Linked DNA regions of Homo sapiens. The protein of the gene in region 1 interacts with the protein of each later gene in a biochemical or structural test. Each region holds a gene or a part of one and is shown in the gene's direction. Other genes may lie near its edges.

Region 1 (7,039 bases):
CGATGATAGTACCCCTTATCAAAGACTGATCACTCATGTGAGCAGGGACTGCGTAAAGGAAGGTCACCAGCCAAGCCCTCCTTGGCAGTAACAGCTTCATGAAATCCAGTGTAGCTTTGTTCCCTGGATCACCCTCTTGCCCACTTTATGTGGCATTTACCTATAGTGCCTGTCCTGTGTCATTTTGATTGTTTGCTTTTATGGCCTGAGTCCCCAGATACTTAAAGCATGTATAAAGGTCAAGTAGAGCTGCCAAATATTAAGACTTTAGTACAATAGACTGCTATTTAACACTAAACATTGCTAGCAAAGGTGACAGTCTCCATGCTCAAAAGAAGTGAAGACCTGATCCAAGTGTCTCTACCTGTCATAAAATTGAATAACCGTAAACTTGACTTGAGTAGTTTCATTACAGTTTTGGAAGAGGAAAAAAGTTGTTACAAGCCCCTTCTGCTCCAGGAGAGGTATCAAATTGATAAGACTTAACAAGAACTCCTAGAGTAGAACATGACCATAAGATCAAGGGAACACATAGTACCCAGCCGTGTGGCTTCGGGTTTTGATCCCAAACCTTGAAGACTTGGCACACAGCATAGAAATACAGCTAATTCATTTTAAATATCTAGCCCATTTTCTGTTTCTCACAGAATGTAAATTTGTTCTTTTCAGTGCAGGGAAAAGTGTTTAAGACAAGGCAGTTGCCTACGTGACTTAAAGTAATGATTGCATTCACTTTGGATACTGACTTTCATTTGGAAAACCACCTTCACATACTAGCCTATAAGAAATTAAATGTATTAAAGGGCTTGATGAGGTCTATAATGATGTTCGTTGTAAATGTACCTGCCTTAGGGAGCTCCTTGTGGTGGCTAATACAACTGCCCTCTACATGGTTAGTTGATAAATTCAAAATTGCTTAGTTTGGTCCCTACTAATTTAATCTCAAAAGAATACTTGGACAACAGAGTGATAGACTACTTTCAAGGCAAACAGTCCAAAAATACTGTCTGCTGAGGTTATGGGCGAGATATACTTGTTAAGCGGAAGTAAGTAGTCCAGGGACAATTTTTTCTGCCACCTAAAGAGTTTTGGGCTAGAAAATCTGAGGACTGATAGTTTTTCTGAAGAGTTGGGGCAGAGTCTAACCTAGCTATAGGCGAATCTGGCTTTTAAGTAAAAATCATCTCAATTTTACTGTCTGCATTTTTCAAACTAAATCAGTGTCTCTTTGCTAAGTTCGTCTATTGGCTTGCAACAAAAACTCTAAACACTGTTAATACCACTTAGTTAAGTACACTAACTGCACTGCAGGAACCAAATGAGATGGCAGGTGATAACACAGGTTAAGTGTCCTTTATCTGAAATACTTGAAACCAGAAGGGTTCCACAGAGTTTAGATTTTTTCAGATTTTGGGACATTCACACATACATAATAAGGTATCTTGGGGATGGGACCCAAGTCTAAACATGAAATTCGTTTATATTTCACATACACCTTATACACATAGCCTGAAGGTAATTTTATAGACTATTTTTAATGATTTTATACAAGAAACAAAGTTTTGACTGCAACTTGTCACGTGATGTCAGGTGTGGAATTTCCACACTTACGGCATCATGTCAGCACTCAAAGTTTTGGATTTTGGAGCATCTCAGATTGCGGATTAGGGATGCTCAACCTGGACCATAAATTTAGCATACTTTTCCCCTTGAGTGAAGTCTCCTAGGAAAGCTTGGGCCCAACAGTTATTTTGAGTCTCTAAGCAAGAGAATGCCTGTTAGGTCCTGTGAGAGTAAGTGTGGAGATTCTGTTAGAAATGTTTCAATGCTTGCTTAGAGATCCTTTGCCTACTTTGTAGTTTAGAGATGCTGGAAACTATAAGATGAAGCCTCTGGCTAGAGCAGCTGATTTTGCCAACTTGGGGGCCATCTGGGGAGCCTTTATGTATGTAGACGAGGTGGTGGGGATGGGGGGACTTGCAATTTGCCAACCAAGGGACATAACAAAGCCTCGGCGATAGACAGCATTTGTGAGTTACATCACAAGTTTGTTAGAACTTAATAGTTCTCCCACATGCTGTGAGTAAACAGGGTTTCTATTTTATAGACTGCCTCTAATCTTTCATTTTCTTAAGAAAGACTTCCCCACATCTGAGGTATTAACTGATCTGTATGTTCACTAAGTAGGTTGCAGATTGATGTTGGTCATCTTTGTGCATCTTCTGGAAACCACTTAATGTACATCTACTGAGTACCTACCATATGGCACCAGGCATGGGGACAGAGTGACCATAGCACTGGTTCCTTCCTTTGTGGCACTTAGTCTAGTAGGGGAATCAAAGCAGGAAACAGCCAAAGACCGCTTGGAATAGAAGCTCTGAAGAGGAGTGAGCAGATCCAGTGTTTAAGACTTAATCATAAAAGAGGCAGATAGCAGCTGGAGATTTCTGGAATTTCCATATGCTATCTGGGTTCTAGCTTATGAAGTTTCCCTAAAATTACCAAGAACTTAGACTTTAATTTCAAAAAGCCAGAAATAATTCTATGTCTGCAGATAATCCTACAAAAGTGATATGACTAAAGCAACAATGGATTACTGCCAGTATTACCAAAGAGCATTAAAACATGTCAGAAGTAAAATCTGCGTCTGATATATCACACTCAACTTTACCAGTTAGCCGCTGCTAACCTTCTCAGGTGTTGGAACCTCTCTTTTCACATGGAAATGAAGCCAACACACCCAAAGGGACACACTCATTCTGACAGACAAGTGTGTGAAAATGCACTGTTTTTAAATGATAAATTGCAACAAAGAGGCCGGGCGCGGTGGCTCAAACCTATAATCCCAGTGCTTTTGGAGGCCGAGGCAGGCAGATCACGAGGTCAGGAGTTCGAGACCAGCCTGGCCAACATAGTGAAAGCCCATCTCTACTAAAAATACAAAAAAATTAGCTGGGTGTGGTGGTGCGAGCCTGTAATCCCAGCTACTCAGGAGGCTGAGGCAGGAGAATCGCTTGAACCCGGGTGGCAGAGATTTCAGTGAGCCGAGATAACGCCACTGCACTCCAGCCTGGGCTACAGTGCGAGAATCCATCTCAAAAAAAAAAAAAAAAAATTGCTACAAAGATGAGGTGAAGGTACCCTCATAGGCCTAGGGAACAGGGACCTTTATAACCTAGAGTCTTTCAAAGTATTCTAGCTAGTAAAACAACCAGTCACACTTGGTTTCAAGTTCTGAAAAAGCTGGGGGAAATGTTTTTGACAAAAGTTTTTAGTTCAGACCAGCTTTATTAGTAAACTAATAAATCAACTCATGCACCCAAGACTACCAACTAGTGCCTAGAGAATATAGGATGTCAGGCACCAGGTCCTGAGTTACAAATGTGAACTGCAGCCCATGCCTTAGGGGATCTCTGTGTCTAAAGGTGAAAAATGGTAGCTGAACTCATCTCCTTGGGTGATGGCTCTGTGACAGGGACTATTATGAGAAAGCAGCCAGACCATACCTAGTTTTTCCAAAAAAGGCATTGAGGCCTCATTCAAGAATACAATCTGAGCCCACTCCTGGTGAATGGGTGGACAAGGGCAACATGAACAAACTGAGACAAAGCAGCCATGAGGAAGGGCAAAGCCATGGGGAAGTGAGTGGGTCCCCTTTGAGCTGTTAGCTCAGCCCGTATAGCAGATGGTGGGTAGTGACCAATAGGGAAAAGTCTGAGGAAATTAGTAGGGAACTTAATCCTAGAGATAGTGGTAAGCCAAGAAATGACCCCATTCTTGGCTATTCTAGGTTGCTTGAATCACTAGGTTGCTTGATATGGGTAGAGAATGTGGCAGCCTGGAGGCAAAGGAACAAGACATTTAAATTGACATCAGGTGAGAGGAGGGCTTGGGCATAGCCAGGGATTGATGGCCAAATGTCAGGGAAGAATTTGGGCTCATTTCTGGAGTACTGATTTAGAGTAAGTAATGGGGCCAATCAAAGATAGACTACACAGGGAGGGAAGGATGGATTTTAGAAGAACCTCTGCCTAGTAAGACACCCAAATAAATTTTTTCTGCAAAATAGTTTTGAGGGCTTTACTCACATGTTACTATCATGTGTATTGTAAAAGAGGCATTTATCTCCTGTGTCCCTCCTGTGATGAACATTAGGCCTTATGAGGGTGTTATTGGTATATGCTACAACCCTGAAAATGAAAGAGCCACTTACATTATGGGTAGAAGCTGTAGCTTCTTAACCTTAGTGCAGTGGTTCTCAAAGTGTGGACCGAAATTGGCAACATTAATTCAATGTTAATTGAGTTCATGTGTCAACATTGACTCATTAGAAATGCAAACTTAGGCCCTGTTCTAGACCTGCTGAATCAGAATCCAGGCTGGGGCCCAGCATTCTGTGTTTTAACAAGCCTTCCTGGGGATTCTGATGCACACGGGAGCTTGAGAACGACTGACTTAGTTTACCACTCACAGAAGCTAACGATTTTCAAGGTATATCCGATGGAGGGCCTTTCCTCTGACTTGAACCCTAGACAAGAAAACCAAGAGCTATAATCCTTTTAGAAGACTTGCTGAGGAATTCTAGAAACATTTTTAAAAACTTAGAATGAGGAAGGAAAGCAGGCCTCCATCTCAACAACAAGGCTAAATCTAAGTTGATGCTTAGTAACACAGTATCTAGAGCCAGTGCCTGGGTTCAACTCCTAGCTCTGCCCAGGGCAATCTGGGACAAGTGACTGTACTTTCCTTCTCTACCAGGTTTCCTGATCTGTAAAAGAGGAATAATAGGGCCAACTGTGCAGGATTAAGAATTTTAAAAGCTAAGAGATGTGAAGTCTTAGAGCAGTGTTTGACCAACAACAAAAACGATTTGATTATGTCCATGATTCTTAAGATCAATTTGATGTAAATGGAAATTGAATGTAACTGACAATTGAACTGTAAAATTCACTTATTTCCATGACTCAGAAGAATTAGCCTACATATTCACCACTTTTTAGTGGCCCCCGAACTAGTGTTTTTGTTGCTGTTTGTTTGTTTGTTTTCGAGATGGAGTTTCACTCTTGTTGCCCAGGCTGGAGTGCAATGGCACTATCTCGGCTCACTGCAACTTCTACCTCCCAGGTTCAAACAATTCTCCTGCATCAGCCTCCCAAGGAGCTGGGATTACAGGTGTGTGTAATGCCTGGCTAATTTTTGTATTTTTAGCAGACACTGGGTTTCACCATGTTGACCAGGCTGGTCTTGAACCCCTGACCTCAGGTGATCTGCCCGCCTCAGCCTCCCAAAGTGCTGGGATTACAGGCATGAGCCACCGTGCCTGGCCCAAACTGGTTCTTACAATGTTTCAGAGGCTGACTTTAAGGCCAGAGCACAATCTTTGTGCTTGACAGCTCAGAACATTTCCCTTAACACCTGTTGTGGTACTTTGCCTCTTACAAACCCTTCTCCCCTTAGGAAAACTTTTTTGCTGACTCAGAAATTTGCTTGTCCTGAAAGGAGTTTTAGCTTACAAATAGAAACACTGTCATTAAAGTGGCAAGCAGTAGAAGTGAACTAGACTAAAAATAAATGCCCTTGGTGGCCCCAGAAGTGCCAAAACAAATGGACGGAAGGAATTCCAGCAAGTAACACCCATATGCTCAAGCAATGAGTAAGGGCATGAGAGATGTAAATGCTTGGCCCTGGTGGCCCCAGCAGTGTGGCAGCATGAGCCTCTGTGCAGGCTGAAGTACGCTCTGAGCCTGGTACCCAGAGACACTTTCTCTATATTCTGGGCATGCATCTTGGAGTGCTCCTGCCAGGGTGCTGCTCGGAGCCCCATAGGGAGATTTGTAGTCCGTTTGGAAGGCTTGGTATTTACTCGAAGGCCTATGCAGTTTTTTACTGAAGCTTATGTATTAGTCCTCCATGTCAACCGCTACAGGGAAAATTAGACAATGGCGGCTGACTTCTATATGCATTAAAAACCCTGAGTTTCCCTCTAGGACATTGGTCTAGACAAGGAATTTATGAAAGAGACCTCAAAAGCTTAGGCCACAAAAACAAAATAGACAAATGGGACTTAATTAAACTAAAAAGCTTCTGCACAGCAAAAGAAATAATCAACAAAGTGAAGAACAACCTGCCGAATGGGAGAAAATATTTGCAAACTATTATCTGACAGGAGACTAATATCCAGAATATACAAACTCAAACAATGGGGAAAAAATAATCCCATTAAAAAGTGGAGAAAGGACATGAATAGACATTTCTCAAAAGAGGACATAAAAATAACCAACAGATACATGAAAAAATCGTTACCATTACTAATCATTAGAGAAATGCAAACCAAAACCAAAATGACATATAATCTTATACCAGTCAGAATGGCTATTAATAAAAAGACAAAATACAACAGATGTTGCTGAGGATATGGAGAAAAGGGAAGTCTTATACACTGCTGGTGAGAATGTAAACTAATACAGCCACCAAGGAAAACAATATGCAGATTTCCCAAAAAACTAAAACTGGAATTAACATTTGATCCAGCAATCCCTCTACTGGGTATCTACCCAAAGGAAAAATCAGTATATCCAAGGGATACCTGCACTGGCATGTTTATTGCAGCACTATTCACAGTAACAAAGATACAGAATCAACCTAAATGCCCATCAATAATGAAAGGGTAAAGAAAATATGGTACATATACACAATGGAATACTATTCAGCCATGAAAATGAATGAAATCATGCCATTTGCAGCAGCATGGGGATGGAATTGGAGGTCATTATGCTAAGGGAAATAAGCCAGGCACAGCAGGACAAATATCTTATGTTCTCAATCGTATGTGGAAGCTTAAATATTTCATTCCATGGAGGTAGATGGTAGAAAGATGACAGAGACTCAGAAGTAGGGGGAAAGGGAGAGCAGATGAAAGGAAGTGGGTTAAAGAATACAAACCTACAGTAAGGTAGAAGAAATAACGTCAATGACTGTAGTTAACAAAAACGTGCTCGCGTGATGGACACCCTAAATCCTCGGATTTCATCAGTATAGA
Region 2 (7,000 bases), on another chromosome or scaffold:
GCCACCCTGCAGGCAGATGAAGAATCTAATGGAGGCAGCATTTCATTTTGATAATTCACTCAAGTCAAACATTTTGTTTTTGCTGGGATTTAATCCTTCTCTCAAACTAATAAAGCAAACAAAGCAAGAAAATCACAGTTTATGTCTCTTAGATGGCACTTTAAAAATAGCATAAATTGAAGGGTATTGTCCGGAACTTTAAATGTTATTTAGGACTTACTGAGACAAAGAATACTCGTGGTTGAGTTAAGCAGTTGAGGATGAATCTCAACTTCCCAGAACCTTGCTTTCATCATCTGCAAAACGGACAATATTACCTACCTTGTGGGTCTTGGAGCAATTTTATGGAGAAAATCATATGATTGGGTGCTTTGGCACATAGCAGGATTTCAAGAGAATGATCTCTTAGTAATAGACAGCATGGAATTCTGTTCAAGAAAGTGGATGGCATTTGGAATTGGAAGACCAGGATTGAATCCAGCTACTTCTGACTTTGTGATGTTTGGCAAGTCACCTTTCATGTTAATAAAAAAGAATAATTAACCTTTATGGAGTACTACTAAGAGTCAGGAATGCTTCTAAGCACTTTACACATATTAACTTATTTAATCTTCAGATAACCCTAGGATGTGGATACTTGTATTCTCATTTGTATTAGCTAGATAAGGAAACTGGGGCACAGGAAGATTTGGTAACTGGCCTGAGATTACATAGCAAGTAAGGGATGGAACTAGGATTTAAACCTAGCCATTCTTGTTCCAGGGTCTGTCCTAACCACTGTTATGCTGCCTCTGAGTGAGGAAGTGATCCCAGCTAGCTCCCAGGGTGTAAAATTTAATGGAGAATAATGAAATAGTAAGACTTCTATAGGAGCAAGCTACATATTTCCCCATTTTTGGATGCTAGCAAACAAAATGGGTGTTACCTTATCATCAACAGGGAGTGGGGCAATGATAGGCACTTTGAACACTTGTGACTCTGTGGCAGTTTCTATCAGGCATTGGTTAGTATTGGTTCACATCTATTTACTCTGTGAAAATGTTTATTAATTAGGTAACAATTAGTAATCAATTAGTAAATAATTGTTTAGGCAATTAGTAACGCAGAAACAGCATTACTGCTTTTCTCAGTTACTAGCTGTGGTAAGCAGAGATTCTCAAACTAAAAGGTGGTATAGCAGGTGGTAAGGAGTCTGGACTTCGTTTCTGGACTGACTGCCTGGCTTCAGATCTCAGCTCTACCAGCTCTGTAAGCTGTGTGGCCTTGGCCAGCTAATCTAACTTCTCTGTGCTTTATAGTTTTCTTTATAATGAAATAACAGTACTTACCTCATAAAATTATGAAGATTACAGGAACTAACACAAAGTGCTTAGAATAATACCTAGCATGTAAAGTTACTTAGCTATTAGTGTTATCTTTCAAATGAGATAAAAACCCATCTCCTAGATAATGAAAAAGTTTTCCATCATTGATATTCTGAGAGTTATGTATCCCAATAGTATCTGGTCTATCTTTAGGAAGAGATACATTTTAGGATTTTAGGCAAAGGTTTTTTTTTTTTTTTTTTAATTGGAAATATTTCCTTACACATTTTGGCTCTTTGTGAAGAGGAGTTGTGGAAGTACACATCATGTTAAAATTTCCATGCCATTTTACTTTTCCGCAGTTATTCTGAGGAAAGTAAAATGACTTTGATTGAATTCTAGAGGTGTGTTTGTCAACTGTCCTAATTTACAGATTGAAAGAATATTAGGCTTGCAGAGATACGTAACTTTACAGCCCAGAGGCGCCATCGCAACTCAGGATTCTTGGACTCCTTGTCCAGTGCTCCTTTCACTAGACCAGATTGTCTCCTATACCAGGATAGAGACGTGGCTTGAAAATATAAATAAAACTTGGCAGAGGAGGTGTTGTCAGGCTAAGAGCATGAGCCAGCTAGACATTCTGTACTGAAAAAAGCATGTCAGTAGGAAAAGAAAACCCCTCCTCTGGTATGTACATTTATATCCATGAAAACTCACACTGAACTGAATCTGTGAAATGCATATCAGGATATAAATTCATGTAAAAAAATGAAAACAACTCATTAATCAAATTAATCACCTGGATATTTCCCTCTGATTGGAGAGCAAATGTTCAGATTTCTTTTTCTTTGACATGTTCTTTTTATTTTTCTTCCATTTAGTTTTGAGATGTGGGAAGGTTTTGGTTGAGGAATCATAAAACTCCTCTGGCATCTATTTTATGAAATATGTAGCATATTCTATTGGAAAGAAATTGCAAGCTTGCTTTTATTATTATTATTTTATTTTATTTGAAGCTGACATATAACCAATCTGCAATGCCAGTGGGGGAGTCTCATAAACAGAAAGGAAAATATAAATAAAATTCTGCTGAATAGAAGAGATGACAGCTAAAATGACGAAAATTTTGTGGTGGTGAAGGCGGGCTGTTTAACTTATGGTATAAAAATAAGGGGATGGGTCCTCCCAAATAGTTGTAAGTAGTTCAGCATGAACCCAAATCGGCCCTCTTGACCACCTGTAGTGAGTCTTGCAAATTACCAACCCCATGCATCTGCTCCGAGCTTCATATTGATTTACAATTTTCTTTGTTGGTCAGTCTCTGCATCTCTTGAATGGACTCATGATTTGTTTACTTGGTATCCATCAATTCAGGTATCTCTTTCTTTGCTCTTTCTCTGTCTCTGTCTTTCCTCGTTTCTATCTGCCTTTGTCACATTCAGTCTTTATGTCTCTTTGTTTTTATTCATGTTAGTGTTGCAACTGAAAATAATTGAAAAGCTGTGAATATGCATTGAGAGAATCTGGGAAATTGAGGAAGAACATTCTGGTCATGCACATAAACATCACTTCTATGTCCATTCAACAAATGTTTACTGAGCACCTACTTTGTGCTTGACTCTGGCTCTGTGCTAGGCATTGTGAAGAGTACCAAGATGCAATTGCACAGTTTGCCATCTAGGGACCTGGTTTCATGCATAAATAACTGTTACAGCAGGAGATGCGCTATGGAAAATATGTATACAGCTGTGGAACCTTCTGGAGGTGGTAATTTACTCTACCTGGAGAAAGGAAAGGCTGGGGGAAGGCTTCATTTCACCTAGGTCTTGAAGGCTGACCAGGAGTTTCTCAAGGCTTAAAGGCAGTTCTGACTGATAGGACTTCATGGACAAAGTCATGCAAGCATGAAGGATGGTTATTGACTTAGGGATGGGCATAATTGGGTACAGAGGTAATGTAGAACATGCATCAAAATGGGTTTTTTTAATAGAGCATTTTCCAAACTGTGTCCCAGGAAACACTAATGTCCCCTAAGATCATTATGAATATTTCAAAAGGAAGAAGGCTCAGAGGGAAAAATAAGTTCCATGTTCAAAAATGTTTGGAAGATATTGAATTATATATCCTGTTCTTAGTAAGATGTGGTATTTACTGATATGTTAAAGGTTCAGAGATTTTCTGCACTAAAGTCATTTAACTCATGAAGAATTTTAAAAATTCATTTGCCATAGAACCTTTGATTTCAAGTAGCATCTCTCAGTGTCTTATGAAATAGATTGGGAAAAATGTAGAGAATCACTTAAGCCTTTTAAGAGTAGTTTTCATTCTATCATGAAAATAATATGTGTGTGATTTGAAATGTAGGACAGAATATTTAACCCATTTATGCCTAGTGTTCCTTTATTGGAATGCTAAGCTTGTGGGCGTTATTTATATCCTACTGCTCAAGGTCATCACCAAAGTCTCATTTTTCACAAAAAACAATTTGCAACCTCTGGCATAAATGGGTTAAGACACACAAAAAGTATAAATAACAATATAATAAAAAGTTTTGTACCTACCACTCAGCTAATGAAATAAAGCCAGTTAAATACAGTTGAAACCTCCTGGTAACCTTTCTCTGATCATACGTCCCCTTCTCTTGGCAGACATAGTCACTATCCTAAATTTGATAATTCTTTTGAATATATTTTTCCAGAACAAACCTAAACAATTCCACTGAATTCTCTTCACTTTCTAGCTCATTACTGTATATATAATAAAAAGAAATGGTATTTTGTCCAATAATTTTCCTGAAATAAAGGACATTTATAAACTGTCTAGCTAGTCACTACATAGGTAATAAGAAAGAAATAGTATTTTGCCTAATAATTATACTGGAATAAAGGACATTTATGAACTACTTAGGGAAAGGAAATATAGCTGTCCCTTTTAACTCCGGTGTCTGGAATGTAGTAGATGCTCAATAAGTTTCTGCTTAATTGAATTGAATTAAATGTGTTCAGTCTGCTGTGGTTCATTAAGTTAATTTGGGTAAAAAGATTAGGGTAAATTGTTTTCCATAGACAATATTGAAATTCTTTGTGATCAGTGAACTTGAAAATCATTTTTTATTGTGATTCTTTATTTTGTAATCTAGATTTGGGAGTGAATTATAATAATTATCTGTTGAAAGTCATTTCTATGTTTTATTGACATCTCTTAAAATCATTAACAATAACTACTTATCCAAATCTGTCCTATTAAAACAGTCGATTCACTAGAGCTATCTACTTCCATTATAGGAAAAATTATAAATAAAACTGCTTTCATCCAAAGAGGAAATTTTAAAATTGTAATGCTATGTAATTACTCAGTACCCTGACATGAAATGCATTGAAAGTTTATGAGGTTCCATTCCTTGGGGTCCCCAAGAAATAACTTCCCATCAGTAACAGAGTGTTGTTATTAGATACTATCATGCCAACAGAAGCATCTCTTTTGATATATGCAAGGGACATCTTGAAAAAATTTACATCACCTTAAACATAAGTCATATGTGGGTGACATTTTCTTCTCTTATTGTCTCAGACTATATTCATATATTATGGTATATATGTCAACATGTAGAGTGAATGGCAGAATATTGGTGAAGAATGCATGGTAGAATGAATGAGAGGAGAAAGGAAATGGAAGACTCACAGGCTCACCGGAGGAAGCTTTTGGTACAAAATCATGGCTGTGTGGGAGACAGTAGATTACCTTCTCTCATGGGGTTAGAAGTTGATCTACCCTAGGGTTTTCTATCCTTGCTTTCACTGATATATATTTCTCCTGGTAGTTTTTGTAGTAGCAGTTAAATCCCAGCAGTTAGCAGAACAAGAATGAACTTTGTGGTGTGAATGATCATAAACATAGAAAAACGCTGCACAGAGGGTAAGGAAGAGATGCTGTACAATCCTAGTCCCTGGTGATGGTGTAGCAGTACCTATAATGATGGCATGTGGTGGTGCTTGTCTTGAATTGCAGGCCATGTTATTCTGAGCAGTATTATATGTCTACTCACGAAAGTTCTAGGTATAAGCCACATCCATTCAAATATACTCAGGTTAAACCAGTAGTGCTAGTAATCTAATTGTGGACAAAGTCAAAGATGGGCCAACCATATGCTGAATCTGAGCTATGGCATGTGTTGTCAGAATATAGTTCCAATAAATGCAAAAAGGTTATTTATGCCTTTGGGAAGCTGAATAGATTTATAGACCACATAGAAGTTGGATTTTTGCCAACCTTCTGCTATCTAACTTCTTAATTTTAACGTAGTTGAATTTATCAATCTTTTATGGTTAGCACTTTTTATGTCTTGTTTCAGAAAGCCTTTTTTTTCCCACTCTGATGTCATGAAGATATTCTCCTTTGTTGTCTTCTAAAAGCTTTATTGTTTTGTTTGCCTTTCAAATTTAGGTTCTCTAATCCATGTGGAGTGTGTGCATATATGTGTGTGTGTGTGTGTGTGTGTGTGTGTGTGTGTTGTGTGAGGTAGGCATTTATTCTAATTTTCTTTCATATGGAAAAATGATTTTCCTGGAACTTAGAGTCAATTTCTAAGCATATGTTTTAGCCACTCTTTTGCCCTAACCAAACTTTATTATAGCTTTTTAATGAATCTTGGTATTGGCCAGGACACATCCCTAAAAGTGTCCTTCTGCAAAAGTGTCTCAAGAGTGTCTTGGCTTTTCTTGGGCTGTTTTCTTCCGTATACATTTTATAATCATCTTTCAAGGTTTCACAAGAATACTGTTGAGATTTGATTTGAGTTTTATCAAACTTATAGACTGATTAAAAGATAATGCCATCATTAGGACATTGAGCCTGAGTCTTTCTATCTGTAAATGTAGTAACTCTTTCCATTTATTTAGTTCTTATTTAATGTCTTTCAATACAGTTTATAATTTTCTTCAAAGGGCATGCACTCTTTTTAGATTGAGTTTTAGGTGGTTTATATTTTTGTAATTGCCATTGTAAATGTTATCTTTAAAATTATATTTTCTAGCTATATATTAATTTTCATCATATGCTACCTGTATTTCTTATTCTAAATGGCAAATAGTCAGGAGAGGAGGAAAATCATGGGTGTTTTTGAATGCTTACTATTAAATAAATTCAGGCATCCATGGGAGATACGGCTGGTTCCATTCCAGGCCACTGCAATAAAGAGAATATTGCAATCAAGTGAGTCACACAAATTTGTTGGTTTTCCAGTGTATATAAAAGTTATGTTTACACTATACTGTAGTCTGTTAAGGGTGCAATAGCATTATGTAAAAAAATCAATGTACATACCTTAATTGAAAATACTTTATTGCTCACATATGCTAATGATCAGCTGAGCCTTCAGCAAGTCATAATCTTTTTGCTGGTGGAGGGTTTTACCTCAATGTTGGTGGCTACTGACTGATTAAGGTGGTGGTTACTGAAGATTGAAGTAGCTGGGTCAGTTTCTTAAAATAAGACAATAATGAAGTTTGTCACATTGATTGACTCTTCCTTTCATGAAAGATTTCTCTATAGAATGCAATGCTGTTTGACAGTATTTTACCCACAGCAGAACTTTTTTCAAAATTGGAGTCAGTCCTCTCAAACCCTGACACTGCTTTATCAATAAGTTTATGTAAATCCTTTGCTGTCATTTCAACAATCTTCACAGCATCTTCACT
Region 3 (7,353 bases), on another chromosome or scaffold:
AGCATGGTAGTGGTACCAAAACAGAGATATAGATCAATGGAACAGAACAGAGGCCTCAGAAATAATGTCCTATATCTACAACTATCTGATCTTTGACAAACCTGACAAAAACAAGAAATGGGGAAAGTATTCCCTATTTAATAAATGGTGCTGGGAAAACTGGCTAGCCATATGTAAAAAGCTGAAACTGGATCCCTTCCTTACACCTTATACAAAAATTAATTTAAGATGGATTAAAGACTTAAATGTTAGATCTAACTGCATAAAAACCCTAGAAGAAAACCTAGGCAATACCATTCAGGACATAGGCATGGTCAAGGACTTCATGACTAAAACACCAAAAGCAATGGCAACAGAAGCCAAAATTGACAAATGGTATCTAATTAAACTAAAGAGCTTCTGCACAGCAAAAGAAACTACCATCAGAGTGAACAGGCAACCTACAGAATGGGAGAAAATTTTCGCAACCTACTCATCTGACAAAGGGCTAATATCCAGAATCTACAATGAACTCAAACAAATTTACAAGAAAAAAACAAACAAACCCATCAAAAAGTGGGCGAAGGATATGAACAGACACTTATCAAAAGAAGACATTTATGCAGCCAAAAGACACATGAAAAAATGCTCACTGGCCATCAGAGAAATGCAAATCAAAACCACAATGAGATACCATCTCACACCAGTTAGAATGGCGATCATTAAAAACTCAGGAAACAACAGGTGCTGGAGAGGATGTGGAGAGATAGGAACACTTTTACACTGTTGGTGGGACTGTAAACTAGTTCAACCATTGTGGAAGTCAGTGTGGTGATTCCTCAGGGATCTAGAACTAGAAATACCATTTGACCCAGCCGTCCCATTACTGGGTATATACCCGAAGGATTATAAATCATGCTGCTATAAAGACACATGCACATGTATGTTTATTGTGGCACTATTCACAATAGCAAAGACTTGGAACCAACCCAAATGTCCAACAACGATAGACTGGATTAAGAAAATGTGGCACATATACACCATGGAATACTATGCAGCCATAAAAAATGATGAGTTCATGTCCTTTGTAGGGACATGGATGAAACTGGAAAACATCATTCTCAGCAAACTATCACAAGGACAAAAAACCAAACACCACATGTTCTCACTCATAGGTGGGAATTGAACAATGCAAACACATGGACACAGGAAGGGGAACATCACACACTGGGGACTGTTGTGGGGTGGGGGGAGGGGGAGGGATAGCATTAGGAGATATACCTAATGTAAATGACAAGTTAATAGGTGCAGCACACCAACATGGCACAGGTATACATATGTAACAAACCTGCACGTTGTGCACATTTACCCTAAAACTCAAACTATAATAATAATAAAATGTTTTAAAAATTCAATAGATTTTACAATATTTTTAAATAATTATGACTTTGTATTTATACATTTTATTTGTATTAGTATGTTTTCTTACATTAATTATACTTTTTATAAGGACAAGATCCGACTCAGTACTGATGTTCTTTAGAGCCTACTTACACATTTCATTGTATTTTACTTTAGTAAGAAAGCCACAAAATAAAAATCTACATTAAAATATGTGTGTACAAAAAAAATCTGATTCCCAGCCTATTCCTGTTTGCAATTGCTGCAACATTAAAATATAGCACATCAAATACATATTTGCTTCTCGGCTAGGATCGCCAAAGAAAAAACATCTTATGATTTGTGGTTGCTGTTATTTAATCTTCCCTGAGCTTCATCTTCCCTCATCTGTAGAAGGGGAATATTATTGAGTTTGGAGTGCTTTTGTAATGATTAAACACAGTAGAAGATGAAAAGTGCCCAGTGCAATTAGCAGGCCTTCAATCAAAATAAGCAAGCTAGCTAGCTAGCTGGCTGGCCAGCTAAATAATGCTTCCCTACATCCAGAATTTCCAGTTGTTTCATTAGATATGCACATTCAAGTTTTTACTTAGGTAATTTTAAATGTGTCCCAGTGGCAAGTGTCCTGCTAAAGGGGTACTGTTAGCTTCTTCTCACCTAAAACTTAGTTTGTTACAAAGGAAATGCCAATTATGGAAAAAGTCAAGCCTTGAGCTACTGAAGGCCGAGTAACCTCGCCAAAGTTTGGATGAGTCGCTTCACTAATGCACATGCAATCCTGACCTAGAGATCATGTGAGTTTCTGCGTTAGAAGGCGGGCACCTGATGGCTCCCAGTGCAGCCAATCAGGAGAGAACGTTGCCGCCACACCCACCTGCTCCGCGCTGGCCCTGGGAGAGGAGCCAACCTGTCTTGCTTTTTTTTTTTTTTTAACCAGGCTAAGCTGCTGTAAATTAAGTCTTCCTGGAAATCTCAGCAACTCTATTGGACGTGCTAATGGCACAGTTCACTCCAAACTGGATTCATATTTAAATATTACATATCCTCCAACTCTTGAGTGCTTTAATTTTGTTATCTGGTTAGCCTGGGAAATCATTTTAAAAATACGCTATAAGTATCAGACTTTCCCTTAGCAATTATATAAAATCTCCTTGCAGTTTTCTGAAAGGCACAGAAGTGCAGTTTGATTTGGTTGTCTTATCAAAGGACATTTATGCATGAAAATAGGCTGCAGGAGTATTCTATATAAGATAGCAGGCAGTTCTGCACGTCTGTTTATATGCCATTCACACCATGAACACATCCAATGCAATTGTATTCATCTTCTGTCATTTTTTAAAATTAGAGTTTACTACATGATTTTTGGAGGACGGCCATATCATAGTTATTCATCCCTTGCATGGTCTGTTCTGCCACTTCTAAAGTTCTGCGAAGTTTAATTTTTGGCAGGTTTCAAGATTCTCTACATACTTTGTAGGTTAGAGTGAACGTGCACAGTATATTGTGTAATAATTGCAATACAAGACGGTGTGTTGTGTTGTGGCACGGAATGCATCAACTTAAAGATAGAATTGTTATGCAGAATAGAGACCTTTGAAATATTTGGGTATTATCAACTTTTATTTCATTTTTTGAGAAAAACTTAAAAAGTGAGCCCAGTTTTTTAAAAAGCATTTCATTGTTCTAACCTACAATTGTGCATTGTATGTTTGTGTGTGTGTGACGGAGGGTGGGATGAATAAAAGGGGACATTAAAAATATTCAGACCATAAATATAGTAGATTGGAGGTTCTGATTTGATGAGCCAGTTTCTCAGCCATAAACTGAGAGGGGGTTGGGGATACACTTCATTGTCCTTCCTGGCTAATGTAAATCCCTTATATTTAAAAAGATATTTAAAAGTATTCCAAGCATTTTGGCAGAAAAGCATAGTATCTAATGTTATTTTTTTCTTATTTTATGTGCATGCCTCTTATCCATTTAAAAATAGCTTTACTGACCTATAATTTACACACTATATAATTCTCCCATTGAAAGTGCATAATTCTGTTGCTTTTAGTATATTTACAGAGTTGTGCAGCATCAGCATAATGTAATCTAGAACATTGTCATCAACTACCCCCAAATCTCTATTCTTCCCTTCCCCTATTAATTACCCAGCCCCAGGCAAGCACTGATCTACTTTTGGTCTCTATGGATTTGTCTATTTGTGGACACTTTAAATGGAATCATACAATATGTGTCTTTTGCGACTATCTTCTTTCACTTATCATAACTCAATACGGCTTTAGATTATTTGACCTCGATGTTCTGCCTCTGAACATAAAATATTATCCTTGCATTCCTTGATGAGTTTGAGGATTGAGAATAATTTGCATGAGACAAAAATTAGAAACTAGTTAGAGCAAGTAGGCTTTTCTCCATCACATAAGCTGATCCATCTTGCCAATGTTAAAACACCAGATTGTACAAGCACAAGCTGGGACGCAATGTGTGTCCCTCTATCCCTACATTGACTTTGCGGGGGTGGGGATGGGGTGCGGGGTGAGTGAGGGAGGACTGCAAGTGACAAACAGGATTCGTCAAAAGAGAGGTGTATTAAAGTGCCGATCAAATGTAATTTAACAGCTAAACTTTCCCTCCTTGGAAAACAGGTGATTGTTGAGTATTTAACGTGAATCGATGTAAACCTGTGTTTGGTGCTTAGACAGGGGGCCCCCGGGTAGAGTGGAACCCCTTAAGCTAAGCGAACAGGAGCCTAACAAAGCAAATTTTTCCGTCTGCCCTTTCCCCCTCTTCTCGTTGGCAGGGTTGATCCTCATTACTGTTTGCTCAAACGTTTAGAAGTGAATTTAGGTCCCTCCCCCCAACTTATGATTTTATAGCCAATAGGTGATGAGGTTTATTTGCATATTTCCAGTCACATAAGCAGCCTTGGCGTGAAAACAGTGTCAGACTCGATTCCCCCTCTTCCTCCTCCTCAAGGGAAAGCTGCCCACTTCTAGCTGCCCTGCCATCCCCTTTAAAGGGCGACTTGCTCAGCGCCAAACCGCGGCTCCAGCCCTCTCCAGCCTCCGGCTCAGCCGGCTCATCAGTCGGTCCGCGCCTTGCAGCTCCTCCAGAGGGACGCGCCCCGAGATGGAGAGCAAAGCCCTGCTCGTGCTGACTCTGGCCGTGTGGCTCCAGAGTCTGACCGCCTCCCGCGGAGGGGTGGCCGCCGCCGACCGTAAGTTTTGCGCGCAAACTCCCCTCCACCTGCAGACCCGGCGGGTGGCCACTGCCACCCGAACTGAGGATGAGAAGAAGGAAGTTGGAAGGGGCGGTGGATGCGCCCAGGGACTCTCCCAGCCTGGGCTCTAGCCCCGAAACGGTCCCCGGAGTGGGATCCAGGAGGGGCCGGGAGGGAATCTCCTCCCGATCGTGAAGCGGCGGCGCCCAGTTCCCGCTTTTTCTCTCTGCCGGGTTCCCGCGCTATCCCTTCCACTCTGGCTGGGACCGCGTTCCCGGGCTCGCAGGCTCCGCCGGGGAGGTTCCGGGGTGTGGGGGCCGGGACGGCGGAGGCGGGGAGTAAGGGCCCGGCTGGCGGTGACCTGCAGTCACCTCTCTGCCGGAGGGGCCCTGGAATGAAAGGCGCGCGGGCCAAGGTGACCTCGCCTTGGTTGGCACTGCGGCTCAGCCCCCGCCCGGGGACTCGCGGGCCGACTGTGGCCCCTTCTGGGGAAGCCGGGGCGCGGGGAGGCGTTCCGGGCATCTCAGCCGCACGGGGTACGCTCGCCCTCGGCGGGGCCCCTCGCTCCGCTGTGGGAGTGGCAGTGGGTGTCGGGGTGGAGAAAGTACGCGTGGCGCGGAGTCCTGGGGACGCGGCGTCCCACCCGCTCTGGGGAGCCCCGGACTCTCTCCAGCTTCCAGGCTCGCATGCCCCTCTTTTCTTAGTGCCCTGAGAACCCAGCGAGGGGCTGACCCTCCCGAAACCGTGGCGCAGCCACCAGCAATCTGTGGTCGCCGACTCGGGGGGTTGCCAGGTCTGCGTTTGGCCACCCTTTCTGTCCTGGGGGCTGAGGTCAGCTCCGGGCGCCCGGCCCCGCCGCGCGGCTGCGAGCACGTGGGGTTGACGGGCGCCGCGTGGAGGCAGCGAGCACAACGGTGGTCACCGCCGCCAGGGAACCGCCCGCTCGCTGGGGTCCAGGCGTTCGGGGCCAAATGAGAATGTCTCAGACCTGTCCGCAATGGAGGCAGCCTGCTTAATTCGAACCTCGATTCAGTAAACATGCAACAGCAGCATAGAGAGCAGCTGAAGCCATTCATAACACGGGACAACATTTCCTTTTTTCTTCCATGCTGGAATTGCAATTAGGGCGGTGTCGCTTGGATGTGCTCTCAGGCGGCACGTCCCCAGCGGTTCAAGTTATAATAGAGTCTCTCCATAGCTTTGATGGCCGCTAAACGTTTGTTTTATTTTGGCATTAATTTGTGAAACATTTTTGTTAGGTTAAAAAACAAAAAGTTGGCAGGGAGCAGTGGCTCACCCATGTAGTCCCAGCACTTCGGGAGGCCGAGGCCGGAAGACAGCTTGAGCCCAGAAGTTCGAAATCAGCCTGGGCAACATAGGGAGACACCGTCTCTATAAAAAAAAAATACAAAAATTAGCCGGGCGTGGTGGCCTGTGCCTGTGGTCCCAGATAGTCAGCAGGCTGAGAGATCACTTGAGCCAGGGAGTTTCAGTAGACTGCAGTGAGCTGTGATTGCCCCACTGCACTTCATCCTGGGTGACAGTGAGACCCTGTCTCATAAAATTAAAACAAAACAAAACAAACACTAAGTATAGATTCCATCAAAGCAAAATTGGATAAGAAAAAAAGTATCTTTTCTATTGGATCAGTTTGAAAACACTGGAGAGTTGATGAGAAAGTCTTCAACATCTTAGGTGGGGTATGTTTCGTATGTTTCCCTTCGTACTGCTTAATGCTGACAAGAAGATGGTAGGAGCCAACTCCAAATTCTTATTTCAGAAAGCACACCATAGAATAACGTCATTTTCATTGCAAAACAAGCACCGAAATATGTCATCACATTCAAGTTTTTCCTAGGCTCCCTTACAGGTTCAAGATCCTAAATTCTTGGGAGTCAGTGTCACCTCTCTGGGTTTAGGTTCCTCAACTCTGCAATGAGTTTGGATGAGGCCAATGTTCTCTGAGCCTGGTGTAACTCTTGCCTCTTTAAGTGGACACTTATGTGATTAATTAGTTTAATTGAGTTGTAGCCAACACATGCTTTTCCTAGCTGTAAATATATTAAGGAAGGATTATTTCCAAGTAGACTGGAAACGATGCCCTCCCATCCCCTCCACTTTCACTCTACTCACCCAATATATCATGCCTCTCCCATCACAGCAACTTTCTCCCTCTTTCTCCTCCAGATGCATTCATCTAGGAAGGTAAGAATTTCAGGGAGAGAAAGATGTCACCGTGGTAGAAAGACAGGGATCACCTCCTCTGGGCTCTTGAGTTTACTTATTCATTCTGGATTCTTTCTAACAAGAATATGAGGACAAGAGGCACTGTCCTCAGGCACTTCGTCCTGGGAGCCACCACCATCTCTGCATGGCCCCAATTAGGAAACGTGAAGAGCTAGGAGAGGGAGAGTATGGTCAGTGCTTAGCAGCTGAAGTTCCACTTGCCTGGCCATCGTGAATTTCCAGGCTGTCTTCTGAGTTGAACATGATGGCAAAGGAGAGCAAAATAGCAGATGTCACTGAAGGAGAGCTCAGCGAGGGAGTGATTGATTAATAGCTGTATTGAAAGGTGGGAGTCAGGTACGGGGGAAGAGCGGCGATGGAAAATTTTCGCTTTCTTTCAGCAGCTTATTTTTAACTCAGCTTTCTGTTCTTGCTTTATTATGGAGGAAAAATTGGGCCATAGAGTTTACTGCCTTATGCCAGATTGTTCAAGAAAATGCCTTGCAACTTACAATATT
Region 4 (6,998 bases), on another chromosome or scaffold:
AATATTTGTTACTCAACTTACTGTACTCTTCCTCTTTTATTTCACAAGTGTTACATTCCATGAATCAGCTTGTCCAAAAGTACTGTTAAAAGGATTTTTTTTAACTATACAAATGCTAAAAGAAAGTTTATTTTTTTTTTAGTATGCTCAAAGTGGATAAAGGCTTTCAAAGCATGATACAATCCTCAAAAGGAAATGACTCAAAGTTTATGGAATAAAAATGTAAACATTTCTGTAAGTTACACATACAAACAGAAAAGTAAAAATTGTCAAATTAAAAAAAAATTGTCAAATGTCCAAAGACTATTTTCCTACTAATTATTAAGAAAGGGACAAAGCAATTTATGGAAAAAAAGGTGAAAAGGATATTGTTACAAATGTTTTAAAATAAAAATGGCTAATATACTTTAGAAAATTATAAAATTACTGGGGGAAGGTTAACACACACTTAACATTTGTTACTTCTGAGGAATACAATTGGGGATTGAGGCCTCTCATTGTACACTTTTCTATAATTTTCAATATTGCTTTCTCTCCATACTTAATACATTTTCTAAAATAAAATTGTGCGTGATAGCCAGTGATGGCCATGCAATTATTTGTTGTTGTTTTTGTTTTTTGAGACAGAGTCTCACTCTATTGCCCAGGCTGGAGTATAGTGGCACAATCTTAGCTCACTGCAAACCTCCGCCTCCCAGGTTCAAGCGATTTTCCTGTCTCAGCCTCCTGAGTAGTTGGGATTACAGGCATGCACCACCACACCTGGCTAATTTTTGTATTTTTAGTAGAGAGGAGGTTTCACCATGTTGGTCAAGCTACTCTCGAACTCCTGACCTCAAGTGATCCGCCCACCTCAGCCTCCCAAAGTGCTGGGATTACAGGTGTGAGCCACCAAGCCCAGCCACAATTATTTGTTAAACAAAAACTATGTCAGGCTCTGTGCTAAATCCTTCATATTATCACTTTTAATCTTGACAGCAATTCTGTGAGGGAGATATTTCTACCATGTTTAAGAGAGGTAAAGTAGTTAGCAATAAGTCATACACTTAGGAAGTGATGAATTCCAAATTCAGACTCGGATTCCATTCATTTTCCTAGCAGATGTTCTTAATCTGAATCAAACCATTACATATCCATGGTATGAAGAAGCAGCATAATAGTCTCTCATTTCCACTCATTCTCACTACTTGTAAAGCATTATGATGGTTATAATAGTCTTGTGTGTGTCTGTTTATTCAACTTATTACCAACTATGAGCTTATTCTGTACTATAGGGGTTCAGTGGTGAATTAAACAGACAAGCATCCCCCTCCTCAAAAACGCAACATTCTAGCAAGTGCAAAGGCAGGTGCAAAGTTCAGTGGTGAATTAAACAGACAAGCATCCCCCTCTGCAAAAACCCAACATTCTAGCAGGTGCAAAGACAGGGCAAAAACAAAAGTCAATTGGCAGAATTTCTTCGATGGTGATAAGTGACCTGTGGAAAATAAAGCAGAGAACGGAGAGGGGAGGAGGCTTGTAGGAAGTGGGGGTGATGAAATGGGGAGTGTTGAGTGCCTAGAAATTTTCAGGCTCCTGTCAAGTATTGTACACTACTCATCTCTTAGCTCTTATTATTACTCTTTTATTTAGTTTTCTCTATTCTTTGATTATGAAAATGAGAGCAATGAATGTTAATTAACTTGATTATGGCAATCATTTTACAGTGTATACACATGTCAAAATGATTCATACCTTGATAAATCTGGAAAAAGAAGAACAAGCAGTTAACTTCCAATTACAAGTCAATATAACTAGGGCCCGGTAGCCTGAGGATTTAAACTTACATCCTTCCAATTTCTAACCCTATGTGATCTCTTGCAAAAAAAAAAAAAAAAGAATTTCCAAAGAATTGTCTAAACTGACTGAAGTAGATTGAAAATTATATCCTGTCATTCTAATAAATTAATCCAGTGTTATAGTGGATTTACATAAAGCAAGGTATATGCTCACATAAAACACATCCCTTCAAAATATGGTGGGTGCATAGTCTTTAAAAAAATGAAAACCCCAACACTCTTTACTTTAAAATGGGTACAGCATTTTGCTATGTTATTGTTTAAGGTCTATATTTTTCTAAAAATCCACAGTTGCAGATTTGACTCAGCTGTGTGCTTTCAGATCTTGTATGCTAAGCTACTCAGGAACTGTTGTCTATGGGATTGAACACTTAACAGCTGTCTCTGGGAATGTAAATTTGATTCTTTGGACTGCTCATGGGACTCTGTGACATTTTCCTCTCCAGTGACAGCAGATTTGAATGGCATTAGGCTACTGATTAAATAATACCCAAGTAAGTTTAATGTCAACTTAGGCATCTATTTTGCATGTATTTTTTCTGAAATAATCTTTCTCTAATTGCGATCATATTTTCATTATACTTTAGTCTTTTAATATCTTTAAAATATGCTCTTTTAAACAGGTCTTATCTGAACCCTTTCGTTGGTAATCTTTTTCTGAATTGTCATATTAGAGTGTGAGTGTGTGAGAATTAAGGTTGAGAAATAAATTAGCTTAAATACAAAACAGCTATCTACAAAATAGATATTCTTAACCAAAATAATATGTCTTTATACTACCATTTTATATCGTGCCACCAAGATAAAAGGTCGCAGTTATTTAAGGGAATTACCTTCTTAAGTTTCATGAAATCACTGTGAGTTATTCTTTTCTAACTGAAAGCATAAATTATAAAGAGATTGCACATGGTCATTTCTACTTTATCCTAATTAAGTGGTCTGAGATTTGAAAAAAAAGTAATAGACTTACAATATTTTTATGACTTATTTTTTAAATAAATATGTCAGTAAAAACTTCCCTGGGGAAAAAAAATTCTTGAGGAGAAAAGAGTGTTTGGGGTTTTTTTTTTCAGTTGTATGGCACTGCTTGCAAATGAAAGGATTCGTTGTGTGCCTCACATGCCCAAAAAGGACAGCACGAGCATTCTAACTTAAGGACTGGTTTAAATATGACCTAATGAACTAAATATATTTCTGTCTGGTATTCTTAGGTTACTTTACTTCTAAGGTTGTTTGAATGCATTTATCCAGCTCTCCTATCAAATACATGCCAGGTTAACCCTGTGAAGGTTTTCCTGTATGATTCTGAGAATTTCTTTATAAGAACAGGGTCTTGATAGTGAAGGTTCTTTCCCCAAAGTGCAAGGCCTTCTATTTTGATTCAATATCAACATAATGCTTTTTTTTTTTTTGAAAGTGACTTAAGTACTAAAGATTATCCTCAATAGTAATTCTACTTAGACATATTTTGGTTGAAGAAATTTAAAGAGTTTATTTTTTGTAGGAGCACTGTGCTGTGATCATGAAATTTTTGCAAAACTAACAGAAAATGATAAACAGTTAAGAACTTCCAGCTAGAACAATAGGCTGTTTCCTTTTTTTAAGTCAGTTTGTCATCCTTGCTGATTGACAGTCTCCAATTGTTTTCAGAATTATTAGTCTCACAGTATTTCAGAATTACGCTGTATAAAAAAGTACATTAAATTTAAACTTAATAAAATAAGTTTCGCAAGCTCAGTCAAGACAGGGAAGTGAGAATATGATTATTCTTCCAAATTTACTATTTCCACCAGCGGTCTCAGTTCAGCATCTGAGAATATGTTAGGGGAAACTCAGCAAGTCAGTTCCTTTTGTTTTTCTGGCCTCTGACTTACTTGGATGGGAAATAGCCAAAAAAAAAAAAAATGCTGAATATCTCAGATATAGGTAATGGGTCTTCACCAGAACATAAAAATAGACCCTTATTAGCCATATCAGTAATGTGCTGTGTGGGGGATTTTTTTTTTCTTTCAATTCCTCTGGCAACAAACCACACACTGGGATCTGACACTGTAGAGTGCTTTCTCTTCTCTTTTTTTGGGGGGGGGAGGGGGTGTGGTTGCATATTTAAACTCTCACGCATTTATGTACTGAGGACTGCAGTGTAGGACTTTCCTGCAGAATACCATTTGATCCTATTAAGAATTGTCCAAATGTTGGAGCATTTGATTGAAAAATCCTTCTTAGCCATTTTAAAGGTAAGTTGTATGATTTTTCTTTAAATAAAAAAGATTAAGGGATTTTTCCCATCACCCAGATGACGGGAGGTGACACTACTGTATAAATACTCCTAAGAAGTTATATAGGAGGACAGGAAAAAAGGTAGTAACTGTTTTCTTAGTCACTAGGCTTTATCTAAAAATCAGGTTTGCATTATTTTCAAGTTATCAACCTTCCTATATTTTATGCTTAAACCATACCCAATGGCATTTCATGTCGTATGTATAAGTTAATATTTAAAGTGATTTATAATCCAATTTGGATTATTATAAAACTTTCATTTTATACTTAGGCTATTTATACATGATGTTTAAATGATGAAGATCATTATACTGCAGACCAATATAATGAGGTTAGATGTTATAAATGACTTACAGCTCTTATGTCAACATGTTGTCTAATATGCAATTATTAACTATTACTTTACAGAGTCATTAGCTTGTTTAATTTTCAATCTGAATTGCACAACTTTTGGTATACCTGACTTGCTCTACATGATCAAATGCAATGTGTATTTTGGATATGTGCTTTTTAAGTTCTTTTCTGTAATGAACAAAGATATTGTCATTGTTACTGGGAATAGCAAAGTATATTACTTTTAAATAATCTGAAATTTAATTAGTGTAAATTAGTAGAATAAAAATAAAGTTAATTTTTTTTCGATTCAGGAAGCTTATTACAAATAGTACTGAATTATTAGATGATGATGCCAAGTTGAAGTAAAGGAGAAATCAATTTGGAGGAATTAAGTAAAAGCCTCAAATTAATTATACATTAACTAAAATTATAAATAACTGTAAATGGCATAAATTCTCTAGAGTACATCCCAGTTTCTGAAATCATCAAGTAGCATATTGAAACCTGTTTTGTAAAGATTTGCATGTACTTTTTAGTCTTTTTCTGTGTGGTTTGAAGTCAGTAATGTGTGTTGAAGCTAAAAAATATTGCTTTAAATATTGGTTCACAAGGAAGCCAAAATGAAATATTTAAAAATGTTTGTTATATAGAAAGTCCAGTGGTCCTTTGGAATTTACAAGAAAATAAGAACTAAAGTAGAAATCATTTAATTTCCCAGACTCATTAGTGAACCAGAACAATAAACCAAACAGAGAACCATCAGATAATGGGTTAGCCTGGGAAGAATATTAATTACAACTGGAGGTACTTGCACAGAGTGTACTGAATTTGGAATTTACCTTGGAAGTTATAGTTGCCACCCTATTTTTTTAAGGAATTTTTTTAACCTTGTTTACTTTAACACATTTGAACCCTGCATGTGTGTGTATTTCCTGTGTGTTTCCTGAAAAGGAAAGTTTAAGATAATTCTGTAACTATCAGATACTTAATTCTGTAAGTATCCTTGCATCTAATCAGAAGATGTTTTTGTTCACTGGCCCAAGATGTGTCTGAAACTTGCAAGTAGCATTGTTCTAAACTAGTAGCTGTCTTTCCATTTGCATATTTTAATTCCATACATATATGATCACATTTCATTATAATCTAACTATTTTGCAAATACTCATTTCTACTTTTGTAAAATATACACATTTATTAGATTTTTAAAACACTTGGCCAATATGAAATAACACTTTACTGTTATGGTTTGAAATGATACTTCATAGTAATATTTCAAAATAACAATAACATTTTCTACAATATAAATATATATTATTTTACTTCATTTAATACTTGCAACCTTATTTGATGTAAGTAAACTCATTTTAGAGAAAACTGTATCACAGACAAACTTCAATACTAACACCCAGAACTGAATCTACATTTCTTGGCTTCAAGGTCCAGCATTTTTGGCATTACAAACTTTATAGTGTCTGTTTATAGTAGAATTTGGGGTGTGGAAAAAAGACATTAGCATTCTTGTCTAAGGTTCAAAAATTAAGAATGGGTCTAGATAATACTCTTTAAGTCAGTATGAACTTAAGGGAATAATTTCAAACCTACAGTAATCCCTGGTTCATAAGTCTTTAAAAGACGGGACTTGTTTCTAGAAGGATCCCAAGTATAATATATAAAGTCCAATGTATTTATTGCATTAGTTTTTAAAGACTACCATCAAAACAAGTTACAAATTGCAATATTTGAGAAGTATGTAATTATTTTATATTACAGATGTCTATCAAGTTTTTTCCTATTTTACATTTTTACCATCATATATTCTGATAGGATAGAAATGGACATGAGATAATTTCAGTAAGATAAGATTCTGGAGATCTCATAGTCCAGTTATTTGAAAATTACTTGTGGAGCCCATGGGTTCTTTGGAGATGACTCAGAGCCCAAGTGAAGCGTGACTGGGAAAGGGAAGAGGCACAGTTTCTGCTCCTTTCTTTTACCAAATAACTCTTCTTTGAACTATCTTTTATATTGGTATTGTGCATAAAATTTACCTTGAAAGGAGAATTCTATCTCTAAACATGATTTTATAAAGAATGACCTAATGACCTTATGTTGATGAAACATAATCATAGTTAAATGATTGTTTTACACCCATTTCTACTACCTTGAATTTGAATCTACATTTTTACTCATGTATAGGGAACTGTGTCTTTATAAACATACATAGTTATGATAATGTGAAAAAAGTAATTTTAAAAACTAACTTCTATACTCATGCAAACCGTTGAATGAATTCCCCCAAGTCCTCCAAAAACTAGATTTTATGGACAGATGCTGTATTTTTTAGGTAAGGAAAACTCTCTGTATCAAGAGAATGGAAAACAAGAGTGTGGTCTGGTTTTCTATCCTAAGAAAAAGTGGGAGGAAGGCTTATAGATAGAAAAAAAAGAAATTTTAGCAATCTACTGATCAGTAAGAAAATGTCATTTAGGTCTGGCAAGTGTCTATGGTACAAGTACCCTGGAAATCTAAAACTTTTCAAATTTC

Evidence for each region.
Region 2: the proteins of VLDLR (region 1) and DAB1 form a complex in vitro, tested with the Homo sapiens proteins (2 studies listed by BioGRID).
Region 3: the proteins of VLDLR (region 1) and LPL form a complex in vitro, tested with the Homo sapiens proteins (one study listed by BioGRID).
Region 4: the proteins of VLDLR (region 1) and CD36 form a complex in vitro, tested with the Homo sapiens proteins (one study listed by BioGRID).

Annotation. Positions count from the first base shown.
Region 1 is NC_000009.12:2,624,768-2,631,806, forward strand, and holds part of VLDLR (very low-density lipoprotein receptor isoform a precursor), read left to right. Parts: intron 1-7,039. UniProt on the Homo sapiens protein: Multifunctional cell surface receptor that binds VLDL and transports it into cells by endocytosis and therefore plays an important role in energy metabolism.
Region 2 is NC_000001.11:57,414,061-57,421,060, reverse strand, and holds part of DAB1 (disabled homolog 1), read left to right. Parts: intron 1-7,000. UniProt on the Homo sapiens protein: Signaling adapter of the reelin-mediated signaling pathway, which regulates the migration and differentiation of postmitotic neurons during brain development.
Region 3 is NC_000008.11:19,934,923-19,942,275, forward strand, and holds the start of LPL (lipoprotein lipase precursor), read left to right. Parts: upstream 1-4,330; 5' UTR 4,331-4,518; coding exon 4,519-4,606; intron 4,607-7,353. UniProt on the Homo sapiens protein: Key enzyme in triglyceride metabolism.
Region 4 is NC_000007.14:80,634,672-80,641,669, forward strand, and holds the start of CD36 (platelet glycoprotein 4), read left to right. Parts: upstream 1-3,970; 5' UTR 3,971-4,075; intron 4,076-6,998.